Linked DNA regions of Homo sapiens. The protein of the gene in region 1 interacts with the protein of each later gene in a pairwise test. Each region holds a gene or a part of one and is shown on either strand. Other genes may lie near its edges.

Region 1 (8,210 bases):
AGAAGTGGAAAACAGACCAGGAAACTGAGAAGTGGAAACCTCAGGTGGCTCCTCAAGCTCCCAGCTTCCCCCAGTCCCATCTATAGAATTCCACTCCAGGCAGAGCTGGGGGCCACCACTTCGCCCTTCGACCTCAGCATCTGGGGGACGTGGGAGTCAGGAGGCCACAACAATAAGAGACAGAAGGCATAGTCCGGCCAGAGCCCAGTGTGCCCAGCCTAGCCCAGAAGGCACAGTCCGGCTGCGGAGCCCAGCATACCCAGCCCAGCCCCACCTTCTGCCTCCTCCCGCTGCCGCAGCTGTTGCAGAGTGGGCCGCACGCGGAGGTGGAGCTGGTGGCTGGCGCGCAGCAGGTGCAGCAGGTGCCTGGACCGCCAGGTGCACCCCGTGTAGTAAACCAGCTTCTGTGCTGCGGGCAGCCCATCCAGCTGGATCTCCAGCTTCTTTCCCTGAGCAAACAGGAGAGAAGTTGCCACTCCACAGGTGGAAAACCACGCTAGCCACAGGAAAGGATGATTTTAAATGTCAGCCATGGCCCCCAGGGGGACGAGGCCCAGGTTTTCACTTCGCAGTGCAGATGGCTGTTGGCGGACACTGTGCGCGGACACTGTGCTCTGCTCCGCCCTTGCTTGAGAGGACACAGCCCTCCTGGCTAGAAAGTGCCCGCAGCAGTGTGAGGGGAGTGGAGGTCTGGGGTGGGACAGGAAGACCTCGGTCTGGCTGTCCAGAGCAAGCCTGCTGTCCAGCAGCCCCCACAGTCACTGCCCTTTTATCCCCGGCACCCGGGCTGTGGGGTGACCCTGGGTGACAGCTCTGGGGCCGGGATGAGAGGAACAGAGGCCACACAGGTGCGTTTCTATGACCTGCTCTTCTTTTCTCCCTTGATTTTCTCAATTGGGAGCCAGAAGTTTTCAAGCGATAACAACAACTAGACCTCACCGGGCAGCTAAACACCCCACGCCTGCAGGGCCAGGGCCAGGCACAAAGCCCGTGAGGCCAGGACGGCCCTGATGCCCCCGAGAGGCCGGCAGGAAGGGACCTGCACCTCTTCGGGTGCAGAATTGTCCAGAAAATGCCCCGAGGATGAAGCTGCATCTGCCCAGGCTTTCCAGGGCACGGGGACCCCCCAGACACCCACCAGAAATGCCAGCTTCCCAACGTGGGGCCAGGGGAGGTCGTACAGCAGCTGCGGAGCACGGTCCACCTCCTGCGGGACAGCAGAGGCAGGGCGCGTCCAGGCAGGGCCAGCCAGCGCCCATGACCGCTGCAGGGATGCTACACAGCCCAGACTCCAGTGGGGAAGGGAGGAGGGGGTGGGGGCAGGACGAGGGGCTCTGTGAGGCTGGAGCCCCTTCGGTCACCTGGTAGATGTGCACTCCCCTGAGGGCCAGTCCCAGGATCACGGTGGGACGACCTTCCTTCTTATCCTAGAGGACACAGGTCAGAGGTCAAGTTGCAGGCCTGGAGGTGCTGGGCCTCACTGATGGCAGAGTATGGTCAGTCTGGCTAGGGGCCGAGGGCTCCATGGACCAGGCTGAGCTCTGGGGCCCATTTACAGACAGTCTCATTCACTCCAGCATCAGATCAAAGGCATAGTTGTCATAGCACAAGCACTGCCTTTCATCATGCCAGATAAACACCAGCCACGACCTAAGAGAGCCTGGCCATGCCGGGCCCGGGGTCCTGGTCCCACTCAGCCACGGGGGCTCCATCCATCCCTGCCCTGGGGTCCTGGTCCCATCCCACTCTTAGCCACGGGGGCTCCATCCATCCCTGCCCCGGGGTCCTGGTCCCACTCTTAGCCACGGGGGCTCCATCCATCCCTGCCCTGGGGTCCTGACCACTCTTAGCCATGGGGGCTCCATCCGTCCCTGGCCTGGGGTCCTGATCCCACTCTTAGCCATGGGGGCTCCATCTATCCCTGCCCCGGGGTCCTGGTCCCACTCTTAGCCATGGGGGCTCCATCCATCCCTGCCCTGGGGTCCTGATCCCACTCAGCCATGGGGGCTCCGTGCATCCCTGGCCTGGAGTCAGAGTCCAGCCCATCGCTGGCCGCCCTGGGCTCGACCTTGTGCAGCCTGAAGAAGTGCACGGGCACGTCCTCCAGCCGGCAGGCCTCCTGGATGAAGCACAGCATGGCCTCCTTGGGGCTCAGGCCCTGGCGCTCACGGTGCAGGGTAGGCATGTGCCGGAGGATGTAGTCAATCCCCCTCTTGGTGATGATCTGAGGACAGAGCCGGGAGGTCAGCTCAGACCCCTGCTGGTCCCCCCTTCCTCCTTGCCAGCCCCCTGCTCCGAGAAGCTTCCCCAGACTCCCACAGCTGGTGCCAACCTCGGTGGGCAGGGCCAGGGCCTGGCTGCTGAGCCCAGAACCAGAGATGAAGTCTCAGTGCCCACTGTGGCCCTGGGCCCTGTCTGATTTCCTGTCCCCCTCGGGTCCTCCCCAAGGGGAATGGCAGCAGCCAGCCCTCCTCAGACGTCTGCAGGTGGGGACTCTACTCCCAACGAGCCCTGGCTCTTGGGAACCTGCCCAGTGAGGACCAGCTGGGGCCATCACCGGGACCGGGGTAAGAATCGCAGGGACGTGGAATCACTGAGGGTGGAAATGTGCTCAGAGGCCAAGGGCACGTGTGGCATCCACAGCACTGGGAGGAAGCCTGGCTGGGCCCCACCCTGACCTCAGCGACTGCCTCAGAGCAAAGGTGAGAAGGCCCCAAGGTGCACAGGATAGAGAGGTACACAGGGATGAGCGGTCAAGGAGAGAAACCTTAAAGTTCACCCGGAACAGGGCCTGCATCCCCGGGGTGACAGCCATCAATCCGCGCGGCCATCAGGCCAGACAGCGCCTGGGACTGGGCACACAGTGGTACAGCCCACGCCTCTCCATGGCCCTCCTCCCAGGGGGATGCCACTCCTTCCCTTACAGGTGAGGAAGCTGAGGCTCAGAGACTCCTACGGGTCCCAGGATACTTAGAGAGAAGCAGGAAGGTTCACAGCCACAAGGCCCGTGTGGGTCACATTCCACAGCCAGGCAGCCAAGGGGCTCAGAGAGGTGAAGCCAGAGTGCAAGGCCACACAGCTGGCTGGGTGCGTCAGGAGCACAGGCACCCACACCTGCCTGCTCAGGGCCACTCCTCCCACACTGCCTGCCTTTGGGGGTGGTAAGGACCCTTGGGCCTTCAGGACAGAAGGACAGGTGATTGCCCTGTTTCCATCCCTGACCCTTGCTCCAGCAGCCCCTGCCAGGCCCTCAGTCCCCTGCTCCCATGGATGGCACCCGGTGGAGGTGGACAGGCACCAGACTAGCAGTGCTGGGAGGAGGTGGGCCCTGACCTTACCCACTGTGGGAAGTAGGAGTGTGGCTCGAAGTACCTCCCGGCATGGGCCGACTCCCGGTGCTCGCCCAGGTCAGCCTGCAGCGCGCAGGCAGCCAGCAGGAAGTAGGCTTCCTCCCGGTGAGCGCACTGTGACCTCAGCACGCGCTCCTTCAAGTGGCAGTAGTACAGGTGCCGTGCCCTGTGGTCGCTGGAAGGTGGCAGGGAGTGAGTTCCAGGACGACCGGTGTGGGGACTGCTGGCCCCTCTGGCCCTGCCTTGTCCCTCCCCACACCAGCTCCCAGGGCTGTCCTGAGCCCCTGGTACCTAGTTCCTGTCTTGTTATACCCACAGCTGTGTCCCTGCAGGGCCAGCACGGCACAGGCCCACACTCTTCCTGGAGCGGGGCACAGGTGACTTGCTGCCACCAAGGAGCCACTAGATGAGGCTCCACCTGCCGAGGTCCCACTCCTTCCCCAGTGAGCTTGGCCTTCACCAAACCAAGCCCCAGTGCAGGAGAGGTGCACAGAGCCCGGGCGACTCGAATCCCTGGAGGTGCACAGGGCCTGGACAACTTGAATCCCTGGATGTGGACAGACCTGGCTCCCAGAGCTCACCGCCCAGCACGGGGCTTGGCCATGGCTGGTATTCATTAATCACAGGCCAGGTGGAGGCTCGCCCAAGATGCAGGTGCAAGATCTTCTCATATAATTCCCCCGAACTGGCCCCATAGCACCAGGTAGCTCCATCCATCAACCCAACACTTTCCAGACCTCCCCTCCAAGGCTATCCAGAACCTTCCACATATTCACACACCCCTCACTCTCCAGAACCTGCCACACAACCACATACCAGTGTCTCCAGGGCTCTCCACACAACCACACACCTTTCACTCTCCAGAACCCTCCCACACAACCACACGCCCCTCACCCCCTAGAACCTTCCACACAACCGCACACATGCCTTTTGGAACTGGCAGGGATTGTGCCTGCTTAGGGAATTCCTGGGAAACCCCCTTAGGTTTTCCCCCAGGGTAAACCCTGTTCACGCACCCCTGAAGCTCTGTTCTGGAAGTAAGTCTCAGGATCCTCCTGAGGGACGTCTTTGTTACCCTAGAAGCTCTAAGGCAGCTCTGGAAGAAGCAGCCCCCGTTGGTTTAGAGTGCAGCCCACCAGATGTACAACTTACCCACTCCTGTCGGGGAAAGCTTCCCACTAGACACCTGCAGAGTGGGCAGTGAACAGCGAGAACCGCCACGCAGCAAGCATAGCAGCCCTTAGCCCAGCGACCTCCAGAAGCCTCGCCCACCCCCGGATGGTATACCCACCCTAGAGAGTACGAGTCCTGGCATTTGAGGAAGTACCACTTTAGGCCGGGCACGGTGGCTCACACCTGTAATCCCAGCACTTTGGGAGGTCGAGGCGGGTGGATCACCTGAGGTCGGGAGTTTGAGACCAGCTTGACCAACACAGAGAAACCCCGTCTCTACTGAAAATACAAAATTAGCCAGGTGTGGTGGCGCCCGCCTGTAATCCCAGCTACTCTGGAGACTAAGGCAGAAGAATCGCTTGAACCCAGGAGGTGGAGGTTGCAGTGAGTCGAGATTGTGCCATTGCACTCCAGCCTGGGCGACAAGAGTGAAACTCCGTCTCAAAACAAAACAAAACAAAACAAAAAGAAAAAGAAAAGAAAAAGAAGTACCAATTTATGACACAGTCTGTATACCTTTCGATTAAATAGAATTCCTGTGTTAACCCCAAAGCAAACAGCCGATATAGTGGGGTTGTTTGTTTGTTTTTTGTTTTTGGATAAACTCAAATGTAATGTGTGGCCTTCAGGGGACTTCCACGTCATGCGGCAGATTTTCAGTATTCCAGGAAACACCCCTTACAGTCCGCATGCCGTTACCTTATGACCCTTCCGTTTTCCACGTAGTGCTGCACTCGGAGGAAGGCCACGAAGGGGGCTCTGGGTTTCTCATTTCCCTAGTGGGGAAAATGCAAGAAAGAGCAAGTGAGCCGCAGGGAGGTGCCGCTGGCTGTCCTGTCTTCCCAGTTGGGGGGGCCTGGATTGCTTCACACTCAGCTTAAAGTCGAAGCTCAGGTGTCTGCAGCCATAGCTGACAATTCGACTCATGGTATTTTCTACCCGGAGAACCCTGAGTGGGACGTGGTCTACAGCGTTCAAGAACATCTGCAAAGGCGGGCTTCGGGCGGGCACACCTGCTTGCAGCCTCAGGGCTCACCACAGTCCCCCTGCGGACAGCCCCTCTGGACGGAGCAGCTGCGTGGACAGAAGGCAGCACATTGGTCCAGCACAGTCCACCGCGGTGCCTGCCCTCTCCCACCCCACGCATCCCACCACTGTCCACCGTGGTGCCCTGCTCTCTCCCAACCCACGCATCCCCGCGGTCCCCCACAGCCCACCGCGGTGCCTGCTCTCTCCCACCCCACGTGTCCCCGTGGCCCAGCACAGCCCACCGCGGTGCCTGCCCTCTCCCACCCGACACTCTACACTTACTTCATTTCTTTCTTTCTTCCAATCTTTTGAGAAGTACTTGCTGAGCTTTTGCTCCAAATCCATAAATATATACTCATTGTCTGAAAGCAAAACAAAAGGCTTCATCAGAGCAGTCACCATGCTTCTCAGGTGTCACCGTGTGTTCAAAACTGAGTGTGGCTTGGAGAGAAGAGATGCACAGCTGAAAACTGTGCGTCTGCAGCTGACGCTGCATATGGGGCTTTCCTTGGCTGACAACGCAGAAAGCATCTTAACACACATGCAGGTGTCAAATGCTTGCTTACTAAAACAATGTTCCAACGTGTAGGAATATTACAAGCTGATATTCAAAACTGGCACATGCTCCGGGCACGCCCTTTGGGAAAGCAACTTAGCAACATGTATCCCTACCCTCTTCCTCTGCAACCCAGGCACCCCTCTCTCAGCTATGGAATGAGTCGTTTAAAAAATAGAGATGTCAGGGTTGGATGCGGTGGCTCAACCTCGTAATCTCAGCAATTTTGGAGGCCAAGGCAGGAGGATTGCTTGAGGCCAGGAATTCAAGACAAGCCTGGACAACATAATGAGACCTTGTCACCACAGGAAAAAAAAAAAAATTAGCTGGGTGTGGCGGTGCATGCCTGTAGTCCTAGCTACTCAGGGGGCTGAGGCAGGAAGATTGCTTGATCCTGGGAGTTCAAGGCTGCAGAAAGCTATGAACGTGCCACTGCACTCCAGTGTGGGTGATAAGAGTGTGACCCTGCCTCAAACAATCAAGCAATCAATCAATAAAAATAGAGATGTCTATAATCTAGTACCAACGTGATCAACTTCAAGTCAATGATCCCAGCTTTACCTGTTAACCTGGTTTCCCTGGAAACTATAAGAGACGCTTCTTTCTAAATTAGGTGTTTCTATATTTTAAAAATATTTACCAGCATGTGTTTTCTTTATGGCCTGGAAAAATTAAACAATTTTCCTAGAGAGGAAAATAAAGCCTAGAGAGACACCATTCCTGCTGCGACTTAAAGCAACGTACAATCCCTCCGTGTCTGCTGGGAACTGGTTCCAGGACTCCCCTCGGATATCAAAACCCGGGGATGGTGTAGAGTTTGCATGTACCCTATGCACATCCTCATGTACACTTTACATCATCTTGAGATTCCTTATAATACCTGATGCAATGTAAATGCTGTGGAAGTCTTTGTTGTACTGTGTTGTTAAGCTCATATTATTTTATTGTTGTACTATTTATTGTTATTATTTTGAGTATGTTCAACATGAGGTTAGTTAAATCCAAGGATGCGGAACCCGTGGATACAGAGCACAGTCTACTCTTATTTATATTAGAAAACCTGCAGTCCTGAGAATAAAAGCCACAGGGAAAAGTTAGTCCCTGATAAGGCAGTACTCCCTTACAGCCACCTGCATTACATATGAAGATACTCCATCCCCAAGTGCTAGCACATCTGCAGATAAATGAAGACACCAGTGAGGAAGACTTACCCACAGAGGCCTGCAGAAAGGGCATCACAGGGCCGGGTGCCTGGCTCAGCCCCTCTCTGCCCTGCCTGTCTTTCTAATCCTTAGTACCTGGCTCTTCTAGACGGCGTTAGACCCAGGGGGAGGCTCCAAGGTGTCACCAGCCCCAGTTTACTTTTGTGTCAGGGAGGATCAAACACTTGGCTCATCGGTAACAACCACAGCAACTCACTGCTTAGACACTGGGTGCCATGCTCTGTGTTAAAGACTCTGAACCAATCCCTACATCTTCAACCTGATGGCACTGTTATCTACCCCCATCTCACAGACAGGGAGGCCCAGACTTGCAGAGTCTAGGGGAGTCCCCACCCCACCCCATAACAGGCCAAGGACCCTCAGAGCCAGGGGTTAGCAAACCAGGGCCCCAGGCCAAACCCCAGCACCCACTCGCTCTTGTTAATAAAATCTTGTTGGTAGACAGCCACAATCATTCTATTACATCATGTCCATAGCTGCTTTCGTACTGCAAAGTCAAAATATTTACTATGTGGCCTTTTACAGAAAAAGTCTGCCAATGCCCGGTCTAAGCAAATGCCGAGTGAAAAGGTCTAGATCACCATTCTCTGGTCCTGACTCCCCCGAATTCACTATTTGGGTACTCGAGCTTGAACTCAGTGTTTGCAGCATGAGTGGCAGATGTTTAGCAATGTTCGCTAAAGGATCTGGGGTTACCTTTGCCTCGGTAAGGTCAGCAAAAGGCCTTTTATTTGTACATTCATTACCTAAATCACCCCACTGTATCCTTACCAACTCCATCTCAAATCATAATAAGGAGGACAGAAAATGAACTCCTTAAGCTTAGTACTTCCTAGGACTTAACCTCAAACACTACGAGAACAATACTTGCGGCAACAC
Region 2 (8,210 bases), on another chromosome or scaffold:
GACTACTCCGTTTCTGAATTTATGTTTCTCACTTTGTGTCATTCTTCTGATATTGATCCCAGACTTTTCTGTTGTATAGATACTTGTATAGGCACCTCTATTATGTAGGTACCTATTATATACTTCTTGAAGTCAGAAAAGATGTTTTGTATGGCTCTGTATTTCTTTCAGGAAGAGCGTAGTAGAAGGTAGGCCCTGTATATTTAACTAATAAGAGAGGAGCCAAACAGGCTACTATATTCCTGTTTGTATATATTAATAACTTAACAGAAGTGGTGTCGTTGTTGTTGTTGTTGTTGCCCAGTTCTGCCACCTTCTTGCTTACTAATTTGGGCAAAATCCTTTACCATATTTCTTTAATGCAGAGTGTACCCATAGTTGTAAGATACACTCAGTGTGGCCCTCCCCTAGAAAAGATGACTTTAAAATCAGTAATGTGAGATCCACTTTGATTTTTTAAAAAGTCAGGGTCAAAAACATGCATCTTAGAATGAAGGAAATCACCTAATTTTTCTGTTTCCCTGTTTCCGTAACCTATAACCTTCTCTCAGTATGTGGGATAAAATGAGGATAAATGTGAAAGTACTTTGATTTCTCAAAGGAAAGGAACAATGCACATTTTTCCTTTTCAGAATTCCCTCTTTAATAGAAGAGGTTTTAAAAACTTTTACATGATCATGATGATACTATTGAGCTGTTTTCTTACTGTAAGACTAAATGCAGTTAAAATGTAGCTTTAAATTTTTTCCTTGTTCCTGTCTTGTTTCTGAATCATTTAGTAAAATGTGTCATTTAAATCTAGATGTAAAGTGGAAAGTGGTTTTTAATAAGCAGTTAATTATCAAGCATGGAGAGAAAAAATACGAATCTATAGTAATTTTTCTTCTGAAATTCTAGCATCTGCCAACCATTTTAACCTTATCACTAACCCTCCCTGCTGCTCAACGCTCAGCAAGGTAAACAAAGGCACAGGTTTGGTTGTGTTCTTATTTCTGCTAATATCTGAAGCACTCCTTCTTGTTCTTCCCTATCAAAAAAAGTTATGTCAAAAATTTTTGTCACCTGGCCAACTCCTTTTTATCCATTCTTTTGAGAGTTTAACAAATCCTACCACTCCCTGTTGCATTTTATGCTGGTCCCCTCCTCTCTTCCCTCATTCTGTTTCCCTTCTCTTCAGTCCCAGTCCCACTTACATTTTATTTTTTATTTTTCACTCTTATGTATATACCCACCACTTCCATTTTATTTTATTTTACTTATATTATTTATCTATCTATTGAGACATGATCTCTGTTGCCCAGGCAGGAGTGCAGTGGCACTATCACGGCTCACTCACTACAGCTTCAGTCTCCTGGGCCTAAGCAATCCTCCCACCTAAGTCTTCCAAGTAGCTGGGAACACAGGCACATGCCACCATGCCTGGCTAATTTTTAAATTTTTGTAGAGATGGGCTCTCACTGTGTTGCTCAGGCTGGTCTCAAACTCCTGGGCTTAAGCCATCCTCCCACTTCAGCCTCCCAAAGTGCCAGATTACAAGCACAAGCCACAGCTCTCAGCCCCACTTGCATTTTAAATTATCTTTTTAGTTAGGAAGGTCTTTGCCTTTGTCTTAGATGCCAGGGTACACCATTGAGTGTCAGATTTATTTAATAGTTAAGTGGATGGATCCTTGAGGGGAGGCACTAGGTGATGTTTCAGCTGAAATTAGAATGATGAGTAGGCACCGCCAGAGTGGGCATGGGGGAATGTCTGGTATGTAGTTGAAAGTTTATTTCTGGCTCAGGAGAGAGTAATCTGGGATAGAGACTTGGGAGCTAATAACATAAAATGGAGTCCCTATTACCTGAGAGTTCATTTTCTGAGCTTTTGAAATTACAAGGTTATGTAGGGAAGAAAAATTCTCATGATATGAAAATAATTATTAATAAGTTATCACCTTAAAAAATTAACTACTCAAGCTTACTTCTAATTCCCATCCTCCTGATTGGCGTAGGGGCTTGCTGATCATAATATAGTTCAAATTAGTTGCAAAGTGAAATTATGTATCATGCTAAAATTGCAAGCATTTGTTTCTTTTTTTTGAGATGGAGTTTTGCTCTTGTCACCCAGGCTGGAGTGCAGTGGCGCCATCTGGGTTCACTGCAACCTCCACCTCTTAGGTTCAAGCGATTCTCCTGCCTCAGCCTCCCCAGTAGCTGGGATTACAGGCGTCTGCCCCCACGCCCAGCTGATTTTTGTATTTTTAGTAGAGATGGAGTTTTGCCATGTTGGTCTGACTGGGTCTCGAACTCCTGACCTCAGGTGGTCCACTCACCTCGGCCTCCTTAAGTGCTGGGATTACAGGTGTGAGCCACCGCGGCAAGGCAGCATTTGTTTCTTTGATGCAAGTGATTTGGAGCATTGGTTCACATGCAAAACCATTGACAAATGGGGATCTGACAAAGTTGTCCTCCTGGAATGAAGTAGGTGGTGATTGTTCATTGAATGAATTGACAGATGAAAGCTTGGATGTAATGGTGGGAAATACTAGTGTTCATGGGGCACATGGGGAAAGTTATCAGCATAGTAGGCTAACAAGGAATAATCAAAAGAGCAAGAGAGACCTGGGCAGTACAGTGTCATGGAATCTGCAGAGAAGGCAGATCCCAGAGAGGGAGTGGTTACCAGTGTCATGTGCAGTAGAGGTCAGGGACTATTGGTTGAAATGGTAGGAAGACATTAGTGCTTTGACACAGTGTTTGATTCAGATGTCAGTGAGGGGGAGAACTAAGGTGTATTTTCATTTATGTTGTTAAAAAACTGTGGATTTTTATATATGTGTAAATAAAAAAAGTCCCAAGACTACACACTTAACCGTTACTTCTGGGGAGGAGAGTAGAATTATATGCTTATATTGATTACACTGAAAGAGTTGGTGTTGGTGAAATGGGGCTTTTTATATTGTAGGGTCCTCCTACTTTCTTTTTTAAAAAAAAATTTAAACAATATCACACATAGTATTGGTGGTTTTACAAAAAGAGTTATTGGGAAGTTACAAGTAGAACCATGCATGGGTTATTTTATTGAAGAATAAATGTGAGTGTGTGTTTGTATTTTAAGATAGGAGAGACTTGAGGTTGAAAGGTTAAATACAAGAGAAGGGGAGGTAAGGAGCAAAGTTGTAGAGGATTTGGGGAAGGATTGGGGAAGGAAGGGGATTAGATTCTCAATAGCTCTAGAGAAAAACAGAAGGAAGACCTCTTCCTGTGGGAGACTCAAATTTGAGTTTCTTTAGATTCTTGTGAATCACTGGAGTGTTTGTTTAAAAAAAAAAATATTCAGCAGCCCAACCCCTAGAGATTTTGATTGACTAGATTTGAGGTGGAGCTGAATGTTGCAAAACCTGCGGCCAGAAGTACTAGTCATTTTATTTTATTATATAAGCAGATTTGTTAGAATTACCTTCAAAAAACAACCTGGGAAGTTCAGAGGTAGAAAAATTCTATTAAAGCTTTTTTATTGAGATGTAGCATGCATATAAAAGAATATATAAAATACATATACACAGTTTAATAGTTTTAAAGAATAATGATAAACACCCATGCAAAAGGACTCCACATTCTTTTTCTTTTTTTTTTTTTCTTGAGACAGTCTCGCTGTCACCCAGGCTGGAGTGCAGTGGCGCAATCTCAGCTCACTGCAACTTCTGCCTCCTGGATTCACGCCATTCTCCTGCCTCAGCCTCCCGAATAGCTGGGACTACAGGCGCCCGCCACCACGCCCGGCTAATTTTTTGTATTTTTAGTGAAGACGGGCTTTCACTGTGTTAGCCAGGATTGTCTTGATCTCCTGACCTCGTGATCCGCCCGCCTCTGCCTCCCAAAATGCTGGGATTACAGGCATGAGCCACCACGCCCGGCCAAGGACTCCACATTCTTACATATGTCTCTTTCTCAACCAGTTTTCCACTGGCCTGAATTTTATATTAATCCTCCCCTGCTTTTCTTCATAGTTGTATCACTTATGGATTCCTAAACTGTATTATTTAGTTTTGCCCATTTTTAGATGTGCTTAGCTGTTTCATTTATCAAATGAGAGCTGAAACATATCTTTTAACATCATTTACAATTTAGATGATATACTTTTGTTAACCTTCATTTTTTTTTTTTTTTTTGAGACAAGTCTCGCTTTGTCGCCCAGGCTAGAGTGCAGTGGCGCGATCTCGGCTCACTGCAAGCTCCGTCTCCCGGGTTCACACCATTCTCCTGCCTCAGCCTCCCAAGTAGCTGGGACTACAGGCGCCCATGACCATGCCTGGCTAATTTTTTGTGTTTTTAGTAGAGACGGGGTTTCACCATGTTAGCCAGGATAGTCTCGATCTCCTGACCTCGTGATCCGCCTGCCTCGGCCTCCAAATTTTTGCTTTATATATATTATTGGTAGTCTTTCAGGATTTTTGACTAGCTCTTTTCTGTCTGTTTTCTAACCCAGTTTATTTACTACTTCCTCCCCCTAATATTTATACCGTGCCTGAGACTTTATAGTGAATCATAGAGGCTATTGTCCCTGTTGTTCTCATTCCTTTTTACCTTTCTTAAACTCCTCTGGTGACTCTCCCTACTCATCTTCTCAATTGGTGTTCTGTCCTTTCTGTCCCATGCCATTCCTGTCCAGCATGAAAGTTTCTCTTTTATCTCCCCAACTGCTTCCCTCCTTCATTTTAATTCTTCAGCTCTCCTCCTCTTGCAGTAGCCAGTCAGTTTGATGTTTTATTTGAGCAGACCCTAATTTTGCCATCTCAGCTGTTTTTCCCTTTCCTTCTGGCCCAGCTGTGCTTACTTCATTTGTTATTCTCTGCTCACTTTAGTCTATGAGGCTGTGTCCTTTGCTACAAAAGATGCAGCCATATGCAGACCTCTCTTGTCCCTCTCCTAACTTTACATTTTCTAAAAGAAACTGTCCCATTTGATTTCATTAGCCTTGATTATTTGCAAGTTTTAAAATACTCTAGTTTTAGCTGTTACTTTTCACTTGTAAGTAAGAGATCCCTGGCAAAAAGGTTCTAGATTCTCTCTCCTGTAATGCACACATAGTAGCCCCCTTTTAATTTCTGCAGTGTTTCTTAACTCAAACTATTAATATTTGGTTCTCATCCATGGAAATGCTGTTTTAGTCACTCTCCGGGGAGTCCCAGACATCAGTATTTTTAAAAAGTATTGTTTGTATTGATGGTAGTACTGTAACATTCCACTGCTGGTAAGCCATGGGCCTTTTTTGCTTATTTTTCTAAAATTGATTCTTCTTTTTCTGCTGCCAAGTTTTCTGCTTTGGGGGATTTTATTTAATCCCTAAGGTGTAGCCAGACTGAATTTGTATGGAATTCTCCATCACATTAGCTTTTGGCATTGTGGTCTGTATAGCAGATTCTCATGAGTAATCCTCCACACTTTTTATAGTTCCTACACCATATCAAAAGCTTATTATCTGTTAATTCTTCAACAGATACATGAGATTACTGTTTTACAGATGGAGAAACTGAGTTGTGTCATTTGGGGCAAATTATCTTAGTAGATGGTTGATCTGGTTTGGCTCTGTGTCCCACTCGAATCTCATCTCAAATTTTAATTTCTGTAGTCCCCACGTGTTGAGGGAGGGATCCCATGGAAGGTGATTGGATCATGGGGTCAGTTTCCCCCATGCTGATCTGGTGATAGTGAGTGCTCATGAGATCTGATGGTTTTATAAGTGTTTGACAGTTCCTCATTCATACTCTGTTTTTCTCCTGCCGCCACGTAATATGTGCCTGCTTCCCCTTCTGCCATGATTATAAGTTTTCTGAGGCCTCCCCAGCCATGCAGAACTGTGAGTCAATTAAGCCTCTTTATAAATTACCCAGTCTCGGGTAGTATCTTTATAGCAGTGTGAAAACGAACGAATACAGTGGTAGAACAAAGATCTAGGGGTGTCTGACTCCACGGGCCATTCTCTTGATTACAGGGTGGTCTGGCTCCATTCCCCTTTGCTCTTTCTTTCCCCATATCTTCTGAGTTTTTACTTTTCATAGCCATAATGTAGCTTTAGGTTTCTCCCAGTTCTCACTTTAAAATATTCTCATTTTCAGGTATAGCTGAGAGTCACTGTGTTTTTAGCCAAATCTAAGGGAGAAAATGAATATTGATAGCAGCATGCTGTAGCCAGCTCCTTAAAGGAAGGATGGTGCCTGGTACAGAGTTAGAGTTAGTGCTTCAGTAAATAATGAATGTGTGCTAGGTAGGTTCTGCTGGGTAGGCTGCATGCATTGACCAATTTATTCCTCCTTGTTTCAAAACAGGATTTAAGGGCACTTATATATATATATTTTTTAGTTTTTTTAATGTAAATGAGAGAATAAAGATATATATATATGTCTATATATGTATATATGTATATATATGTCTATATGTCTATATGTATATATGTCTATATGTATATATGTGTGTGTGTACATATATATATATATATATATATATATATATATATATAAGTTTTCTGTTGCTAGCATAACAAACTACCAGAAACTTAGCAACTGAAACAACATGAATTTATCTTACGGTTCTATAGTTCAGAAGTCTAACGTGTCACTGGGATGAAATCCAGGTTTCAACAGGACTGGGTTCCCTTCTAGCTCATTCAGCTACCTGGCTCATTCAGGTTGTTGGCAGAATATACTTCCATGAAACTGTAGGGCTGAGACCCCGTTTCCTTCCTGGCTATCATCTGAGAGCTTTTCCCGACTTCTAGAGTCCACCCACCTACCCACATCCCTTGGCCCATGGCCCCCTTCCTCCATCTTCACAACCAACAACAGTGGGTCACGTCCTTCTTGTGTCTCATCTTTCTTGTTGGGCCATCCCAAGTCTCTCTGTTTTAGGAAAGGTTTTCCACTTTTAAGGACTCATGTGATTAGATTGGGCTTACCTGGATAATACATGCTAATCTCCCCATCTCAAGGTCTAATCTTAATCAAATCTACAAAATCCCCTTTGCCATGCTAGGGTAAAATATTCACAGGTTCTGGGGATTAGGATGTTAATATCTTTTGGAGGGCATTTTTCCGCTTACCATAAAGGCCTGCATTAGTCCATTCTCACACTGCTATAAAGAACTACCTGAGGCCAGGCATGATGGTTCACGCCTGTAATCCTAGCACTTTGGAGGCTGAGGCGGGTGGATTGCTTGCGCTGAGGAGTTCGAGACCAGCCTGGGCAACACGGTGAAACCCCATCTCTACTAAAATACAAAAAATTAGCCAGGCGTGGCGGCATGCGCCTGTAATCCCAGCTACTTGGGAGGCTGAGATGAGAGCATCATTTGAACCCGGGAGGGAGAGGTTGCAGTGAGCTGAGATGGCACCATTGCACTCCAGCCTGGGCGACAGTGCGAGACTCCATCTCAAAAAAAAAAAAAAAAAAAGAAGTACTTGGGACTGGGGAATTTATGAAGAAAAAGAGGTTTAATTAACTCACAATTCCACAGGCTGTAAAGGAAGCATGGCTGGGAGGCCTTAGGAAACTTATAATCATGGCAGAAGGTGAAGGGGAAGCAAGCACATCTAGCCATGTCAGACCAGGAAAGAGAGAGTGAAGGGGGAAGTGCTACACACTTTTAAGCAACCAGATCTCGTGAGAACTCACTGTCACTGAGAACAGCAAGGGGAGGAATCCACCTCTGTGACCCAATCAGCTCCCACCAGGCCCCTCCCCCAACATTGGAAATTACAATTTGATGTGAGATTTGGGTGGAGACACAGAGCCAGACAATTTCAAGGGCTAAGGAGCAAATGGTAGAAACAGTAAAATAAGATCAGAAGAGGTTTAATTGACTCACAGTTCTGGAGAGCTGGAGAGGCCTCAGGAAAATTACAATCATGGCAGAAGGCAAAGGGGAAGCAGGCACCTTCTTCACAAGGCGGCAGGAGAGGGACAATGGAGGAAGGGCCATGCCTTATTAAACAACCAGATTGGCCACTCCCCTAGCATGTGGGGATTACAATTCCAGATGAGATTTTCATGGGGACACAGAGCCAAACCATATCAGGACATTTATACTCAAAGTCTATGATATGAGGTGGTGTAGACTTCTTTGAAGTGGTCACTGAATTTAGCACTAACCAGTGCAAAAAGACAACCCTGCTCATTTACCCTAATCATAGTATCCATTATTTTTTTTTTGAAGTATGTTCATGTATATAC

What was found.
Region 2: the proteins of FRMD1 (region 1) and RAB2A interact in binary tests that used the Homo sapiens proteins (3 or more experiments, as listed by UniProt).

What each region holds. Positions count from the first base shown.
Region 1 is NC_000006.12:168,061,533-168,069,742, forward strand, and holds part of FRMD1 (FERM domain-containing protein 1), read right to left. Parts: intron 5,992-8,210; exon of another isoform or gene 5,955-5,991; coding exon of another isoform or gene 5,915-5,954; coding exon 5,835-5,914; intron 5,598-5,834; exon of another isoform or gene 5,300-5,597; coding exon 5,223-5,299; intron 4,803-5,222; exon of another isoform or gene 3,526-4,802; coding exon 3,339-3,525; intron 2,225-3,338; coding exon 2,069-2,224; intron 1,428-2,068; coding exon 1,362-1,427; intron 1,208-1,361; coding exon of another isoform or gene 1,139-1,207; intron 450-1,138; coding exon 275-449; intron 1-274.
Region 2 is NC_000008.11:60,519,557-60,527,766, forward strand, and holds part of RAB2A (ras-related protein Rab-2A), read left to right. Parts: intron 1-8,210.